Homo sapiens: one gene and its partner. The protein of the gene in region 1 interacts with the protein of each later gene in a pairwise test. Each region holds a gene or a part of one and is shown in the gene's direction. Other genes may lie near its edges.

What was found.
Region 2: the proteins of USP36 (region 1) and TRIM26 interact in a two-hybrid assay, tested with the Homo sapiens proteins (one large-scale study listed by BioGRID).

The regions. Positions count from the first base shown.
Region 1 is NC_000017.11:78,834,160-78,837,978, reverse strand, and holds part of USP36 (ubiquitin carboxyl-terminal hydrolase 36), read left to right. Parts: intron 1-907; exon of another isoform or gene 908-1,082; intron 1,083-1,606; 5' UTR 1,607-1,615; coding exon 1,616-1,868; exon of another isoform or gene 1,869-1,980; coding exon of another isoform or gene 1,981-1,997; intron 1,998-2,477; coding exon 2,478-2,699; intron 2,700-3,819. UniProt on the Homo sapiens protein: Deubiquitinase essential for the regulation of nucleolar structure and function. Required for cell and organism viability.
Region 2 is NC_000006.12:30,206,630-30,210,448, reverse strand, and holds part of TRIM26 (tripartite motif-containing protein 26), read left to right. Parts: intron 1-3,819.

The DNA.
Region 1 (3,819 bases):
CAAGCATCTGGGACGACAGGCCCAGGCCACTGCACCTGGCTTTTCTTTACAGAAGTTTTTGTAGAAAAAGATACTTGATCCATGTATAGAATTAGATGATCCACAGTGATAAATTTGAATGGCTTAATATGAGGTGCTGGAGGAAGTCCTTACTTTCACTAGAGCAGAATTTTGGGGCACACTTGACTTGTTGATTCTCTGAGGGCAGGCTGGGTACTGAATACCAGAGGAAGTCATCATTTTTCTGATGTGAGTGAGCAATTTAAGGGACATATTTTTGAAATTGTGACTCAGATAGTCTGTGCTGTGTTTGGGAAGGTTAAGTTGAGAGGTGGTGGGTAGGGGAGGGCAAGTGGTGGATACAAAGGTAGCGATTGGAGAGGTGCAGGGGTCTCTTCTTGGTTACAGTTTCCATGCAGCTGCACCAACAGTATCGATCCTCTGTTAGGGACTGTAGTATGTAGCAAGCTCTAAAGCACTTCCCAAGCCTATTATTTTTGTTGCTATTTTACAGTAGAATAGGGGGTTTGGAGAAGTCATAGTAGTTGTCCCTGGGTTTCATAGCTAAGGATGATAGAACCTCCCGGGGCCACCACATTCCAAAGCCTGTGATCTCCCCACTCTCCTGCTTGGCTTTTCTTCTTCTCTTTTGATAAGAGTCCTGGGAAGACATTTGTTTAAGTTTAGGTGTCTAATGGATACTAGTCTCTAGGCCTGCTACTTGCTTTTCTTCTCCTTCCTCACTTTTAAAAAGATAATTTGTACTCCAAGCACTGTGTAATGGAGATTAATACAAGCCACAAATATAATTTAAAATTTTATAGTAGCCACATTAAAAAGAAGCAGGTGAAATTCATTTTCATAATTTATTTAACTCAATATATATAAAATATTACCATTTCAACAGGTAACTGATCTAAAAATTACTGGGATGTTTTACATTCTCTTCTTATACTAGTGAGTATTTCTCTTCAAAATCTGGTGTGCATTTTACACTTATAGCACCTCTCAACCTGGACTAGCCTCATTTCACATGCTCAGTAGCCACGTGTGGCCTGTGGCCTTCATATTGAAGAGTGCAGGTCTGTACAGACATGCATGCTCATCTGACCTGCATGCTAATTCATTTATTGCGTGGGTGTGTGTGTGTGTGTCCGTTTGTGTGTGTGTGTGTGTGTGTCCGTGTGTGTATAACCAGTTTGTATGTGAGAATTAGTGTGCCCCTGTTTTGGAGCAGACATTTGGACCACGTGATGACCTTTGGAAGGAAATGGCACCAAGAATGATGTCCAGAGCCACTTGATGAGTATCTGATGAAGAGATGCACATGGCAGGGGCTGTCTGGCTGCCTCAGGGCCACTGTTGTCTGCTCACCTCTATTTGTAGTGGCATCTTATCTTTTTGTGGGGGAAATGTGAACTAATATGTCCAAGTGATTAGTGCTGGGTCTCCCTGTTTCCTTTGTGCAGCTGATCCAGGGGATCACTGATCCAGGGGAGCTTTTGTGGTGGCTAGCATCCATAATGACCAAAGAGGAGATCTTAAGAGATGTTTTTGTCCCGGGATTTCGTTATCTATGGCTCTATGTTTCTTCTTGTCCCCACAGTGATGCACCATGCCAATAGTGGATAAGTTGAAGGAGGCCCTGAAACCCGGCCGCAAGGACTCGGCTGATGATGGAGAACTGGGGAAGCTTCTTGCCTCCTCTGCCAAGAAGGTCCTTTTACAGAAAATCGAGTTCGAGCCAGCCAGCAAGAGCTTCTCCTACCAGCTGGAGGCCTTAAAGAGCAAATATGTGTTGCTCAACCCCAAAACAGAGGGAGCTAGTCGCCACAAGAGTGGAGATGACCCACCGGCCAGGAGACAGGGTACAGATGTGCAGTGTGCTGGCAGAGAGGCCCTCACTCCGGGGTGACGAAGTGGATGGACTTAAATATTGACTAATTAGTAGGAAAAACAAGAGAATGTGGTCAAAGAGTTATGAATTTTTACATGGGGTCAGTGGATTTCAGTTATAGAAGTAATGATACAGGGTTGGTAGCAAGGAAATCTGTGTGCTTGGTGGATCTGTGTACTTGGTGGGTCCTTGGACTTGCTGTCCCCCTATCCCAAGTATAATACAGTCGAAAGTCAGGCTTGGAACTAAGAAAGAGAAATGGGGTGGGCTGCATGTGGGCACAGTGTGGTGCAGAGTGCCAGGCCTGGCTCCTTCCGCCACTCAGTCTCTGAGCTGTGTCCTCCATCTATAGAGGGGCCCTTGAATTCTTTAGCCAAGCAGCCTAGGAGGTCCGTGGGATGGCTGGGTTTACTCCTGAGCTTTCCAGGAATGTCCTGTAAACCAGAACACCAGTTCTTCTCTGGTGCCATGTTCCGAGTCACTGCATGCTAAGTGTATGCTTCAGGAGTTTCTTTTTGTGGACGACCTGTGTGTGGACTTACGTCTTCCTCTTTTCTTCCCTTGTCCCTTTCTTCCTCAGGCAGTGAGCACACGTATGAGAGCTGTGGTGACGGAGTCCCAGCCCCGCAGAAAGTGCTTTTCCCCACGGAGCGACTGTCTCTGAGGTGGGAGCGGGTCTTCCGCGTGGGCGCAGGACTCCACAACCTTGGCAACACCTGCTTTCTCAATGCCACCATCCAGTGCTTGACCTACACACCACCTCTAGCCAACTACCTGCTCTCCAAGGAGCATGCTCGCAGCTGTGAGTGTGGGTTTGCAGCAGTGGGGTGGCTGTGGGTCCTCTGGATTAGATAAGCCCATGCACTTGTGGCACTGCTGCTCTCAGTCTGGGTCAAATTTAGGAGGGTAGTTCATAATGTATAGTAACTGATGAAACCTAAATTTGAATCATGCCTGCTGCAGAATGGGCCATGAAGGTGAATCGGTCAGGTGGGGCTGTGTTCGCCAAGCTTTTCTGTAAATAATTACCCAGACAGAAACGTTTTCAAAAGATACTTCCAAAATATATATATATATATATATACAAATATTATTTTTTTAGAGACAGTATCTTGCTCTGACACCCAGGCTGGAATGCAGTGGCTCCATCACAACTCGTTGTAGTCTTGAACTCCTGGGCTCACATGATCCTCCCATCTCAGCCTCCCAAAGTGCTGGGATTATAAGTGTGAGCCACCATGCCTAGCCCAATTGTTTTATGCATCTGTTGTTGTATCAGCATATCTTATGTGTATTATAAAACGTGCAGCCTGGACAACACAGCAAGATCCCATCTCTACAAAAACAAATCAAGGCCGGGCACGGTGGCTCACACCTGTGGGAGGCAGAGGTGGGCAGATCACTTGAGGTCAGGAGTTGGAGACCAGCCTGGCCAACATGGCGAAACCCGGTTTCTACTAAAAATATAAAAATTAGGCGTGATGGGGTGCACCTGTAATCCCAGCTGCTCGGGAGGCTGAAGCAGGAGAATTGCTTGAACCCAGAAGGTGGAGGTTGCAGTGAGCTGACCAAGATCATGCCGCTGCACTCCAGCCTGGGTGACAGAGCAAGACTCCATCTCACACACACAAAAAACAAATCGAAACAATTAGCTGGATGTGGTGGTGTGCTCTATTTGATTAAAATAGAGGTGAAATAAGATATAACTTACCAAAACTGAAAGAAATAGAAAGTGAAGAGTCTTTTAACTATTAAAGAAATTAAAGCATTGGTTAAAAATCTTCCCATAAAAAACCCCAAGCAGAGACAATGTTATTTCTGTGTAACTTTTTTTTTTTTTTGAGACGGACTCTGTTGCCTAGGCTGGAGTACGGTGGTGTGATCTCAGTTCACTGCAACCTCCGCCTCCTGGGTGCAAGCAA
Region 2 (3,819 bases), on another chromosome or scaffold:
CCTCACAGATAAGGGGACAAATTGTATTCAAGCCTTCAAGGATGCGCTGGACTGGAGAGAAGAGCATGTACAAGGGAATGGGTGGAGAGTGGGGAGTGAAGAAGGGGCTGTCTTCCTGGTTCAGTGTATCTAATGGCCAGAGAATTAGGTAGGACGAGGAGGGATTTGGGGCTGGATGGGTAAGTTGGGGCTAGCCGGATGCAGGGCAGGGGAGGATGTCTGTGCAGTTTTTTTTTTTTGTTTTGAGTCAGAGTCTCGCTCTGTCACCCAGGCTGGAGTGCAGTGGCGTGATCTCAGCTCACTGCAACCTCCGCCTCCTGGGTTCAAGCGATTCTCCTGCCTCAGCCTCCCGAGTAGCTAGGACTACAGGCGCGTGCCACCATGCCCGGCTAATTTTTGTATTTTTAGTAGAGGCTGGGTTTCACCATGTTGGCCAGGATGGTCTCGATCTCTTGACCTCATGATCTGCCCACCTCGGCCTCCCAAAGTGCTGGGATTACAGGCGTGAGGCACCGTGCCCGGCCACCTGTGCAGTTTTGACCTCAGCTAGTAGGAGTTTTTTTGGTGTGTTTGTTTTTATTTTTATTTTTATTTTTATTTATTTATTTTATTTTAGAGACAGTCTCTCCCTATGTTGGCCAGGCTAGTCTTGAACCCCTGGATTCAAGGGATCCTCCTGCCTCAGCCTCCCACAGTGCTAGGATTATAGGCATGAGGCACCAAACCCAGCCTCAGCTAGGAGATTTGAAGCAGGAGAATAACAAGGATGAGATCCTGTGTGCTAGAAGGATGATCCTGGCAGCACTTTTTAGGAAATATGCCACATCTCACCAAATCTAAGATGCTATTTGTCTTAATCCATTTTCTGTTGCTGTAACAGAATACCACAGACTGGGTAAATTGTAAACAACAGATGTTTATTCAGCTCACGGTTCTGGCCAATGGACTCTTGCAAGAAAGGCATTAATCCATTCATGAGAGTTACACCCTCATGACCCAGTCACGTCTTAAAGACCCCACCTCTTAATACCGTTACATTGGCAATTACGTTTCCAACACGTGAACTTTTGGGGGACATGTTCAAACCACAGCACCACCAAATCTTTTATGTGCCCTTATTTTATGCTCCACATCAAAAAAATATTTTGCCAGTTAAATTATGACATGCAATTGATCACATTTCAGAGATGCTAAAATGTGATGTCACAGGTGTCTCAAATTTGATGAAAAGCACTAACTCCCTTGCTGATGGCTTAGATTCCTCCCTTTCCCTGGATTAATGGTTAGGATGTCTCCATCTCACTAACTCATAGATGGTAAGTTACCAAGGGAAAGAAGAACAGAAGCTGGGTGGGCCCTTCCCCTTCTCTCCCCAAAGATAAACATTTACAACATTTACTGGTTGGGTCGAGGAGCACAATATCTGGTCTGCTGCTATAGGATTCCTTGGCCTGTTATTGGGCCTGTCTCATGCTGTTTCCTTTTGGGGAGTTAAATACACACACACACACACACACACACACACACACACACACACACACACATATTCTATATCCCATCCTCCAGAGTGGCAAAAATTAAAGCTGATATTATCAGGTGTTGGTGAGGCTGTGGGGCATCATGAGTGCTCATAGCCTGCTGAGCAGACTACATAGCACTATAGTCACTTTGGAAACAGTTTGGCCTGCTTAGTCAAATTGAGGGTACATCTTGCCTGTGTGTGCTAGAACATGTATGCAGAAATATTCACTGAAGCAGTGTTTGTAATTGTCCCAAACTGGAAACAACTCATATGGCTATCAGTAGACTGCATTAAAAATTGTATAGTTAGAGAGCAGCAATTAAGTAAAATCAGCTCATAATCACATGGATGAGCCTCACAAACATGTTGACAGCCCCCCACCCAAATACATGGAAAAAAAAAAAAAAAAAAGGAAAAAAATTCCATTCATTTGAGGCTCAAAACCTGAGAAAATAAACTCTGTTTATGGGGTGTATACCTAGGTCTAAAACTAAAGAAAAGGGAAGGAGTGATTCTCACTATTACAATTTACTCCACAACAACCATTTTCTCAGACACAGCTTTTTCTTCTCCTGGTTTCTGTAAGTTGCTGGAGCGAAACCTTGGATACGATGATTTGCTGGTGACGTGCAGCCCACTGTTCTTGCTGCTACAGGGAATATGAAGAAATTGCTTCTCTCTCTACCAATTTACTACCATCTTGCTGGAGAGAAAGGGCAGGTGGCTAAGATTGTTCGCATTCCTTCAGCAGATGTGTAGGAAGCATCTTCTTTGTGTCAGATACTCTGTGCTTGTGCTTTGTTTTCTCAGTCAGTTTTTATTGTCTACTCTGTGCCAAGTAATATGTAGATTCTGGTGATAAGACAGACACAATCTCTCTCCTTGTTTCATGGAAAAAGCTGGTGTTAAGCGAGTAATTACACTAATAAGTCAGGACTTAAAACTGCAGAGAAGTACAGGGTGCAGCATGGGGTGTTTTGGGGCTGTATAACTAGACTACATGTGGACCCAATCTGACAGGTCAGGAAAGAATTGCCAGAGGAGGTGGCTTTCAGCTGAGACTTCAAGCTAGAAAAGGCATTTGCTAAGTGGGAAAGGGATGGTGTTCTAGGCAGAAGGAATTACATTGTCGAAGGGCTTAGCCAGGAAAGAGCATAGCACTTTGAGGCATGGAGAGCGGTTTGGTTTGGCTGTGAGTTTGAGGTGGGGAGTGGCAGGAAATGAGCCTGGAGACACAGGCTGGGCCATGATTATCTGGGAATCCAGCTAGGATCTCCTGGGACAGCCTCCTCACAGAAGAAAGGAAGGACAGGAGTTTTGACTTTATTCCTGGAGCACCAGAAAGCCATTGAGGGGTTTAACCTGGTTGGTCACCCGGGCAGATTGGCAGTTTAACACGTGACCGAGTGTGTTTGAGGATCAAAAGGCCAGAGTGGCTGCAGCACTGGGGCAGCAAAGGGGAGAGGAGGTTTATGTAAATCAGGAAACCCTTGAGGGTTTGATGATCCCACAGTTGGATCTGATTTCAGCTTCTAAAGGATTCCTCAGGTCACTGGATGTAAGTTCTGGTAGGACAGGGAGTTTGCCACTTTTGTTCTCTGCTGTAACCTCGGTGCCTGACACATAGTCGGCACCTAATAAACATCTGCTAGCTGTTGAATAACTTTCAACATCCTGCTGCTTAAACCCTCAATGGCTTCCCAGGGCTGTTAGGATAAAGTCCAAAATTCTTAACCTGGGTCACAGTCTTGCATAATCTGTTCCCTCCTGTTTCTCCACCCTTCCTCTGCTCGCCTCACTGCACTCCACCTGTGGCCAATTGTCAGCTCCTCAAATTCACCGCTACCCTTTCTCCGGCGGATGATTTCCTCTGCCTGTGAGGCTAACCCTCCACAGCACTCCATATGGGCAGGGAAGAGTTCATTTTCCAGGCACCAAAGTGCAGTGTATGGTGGAATGGAAGGAGCCCAGAGCTGGGAGGTGCACCTCACCCCACCTCGTGCTAGTGCTGGCCTTGCTGCCAGCCAGCTCTGCTGCTGGGCAAATGAGTCCGAGGCTCTGGCACTCACTGTCCTCCTCTGTAAATAAGGGGTTCTAGTGATTCACAGTCCTGGATAGACTTTAGAATCTCCTGGGAAGTTTGTTTTTTAATACCAGAGCCTGGGCCACCTCTGGAGATCCTAAGTCAGTTGGTCTAGGTATGTTTTGAAGACTCACCAGTTTGAAGACTACAAATCTGATGTGTAGTCAAGGTTTGAACCATTCCACAAGATGATAAAGGATTCCTTCCTATATTT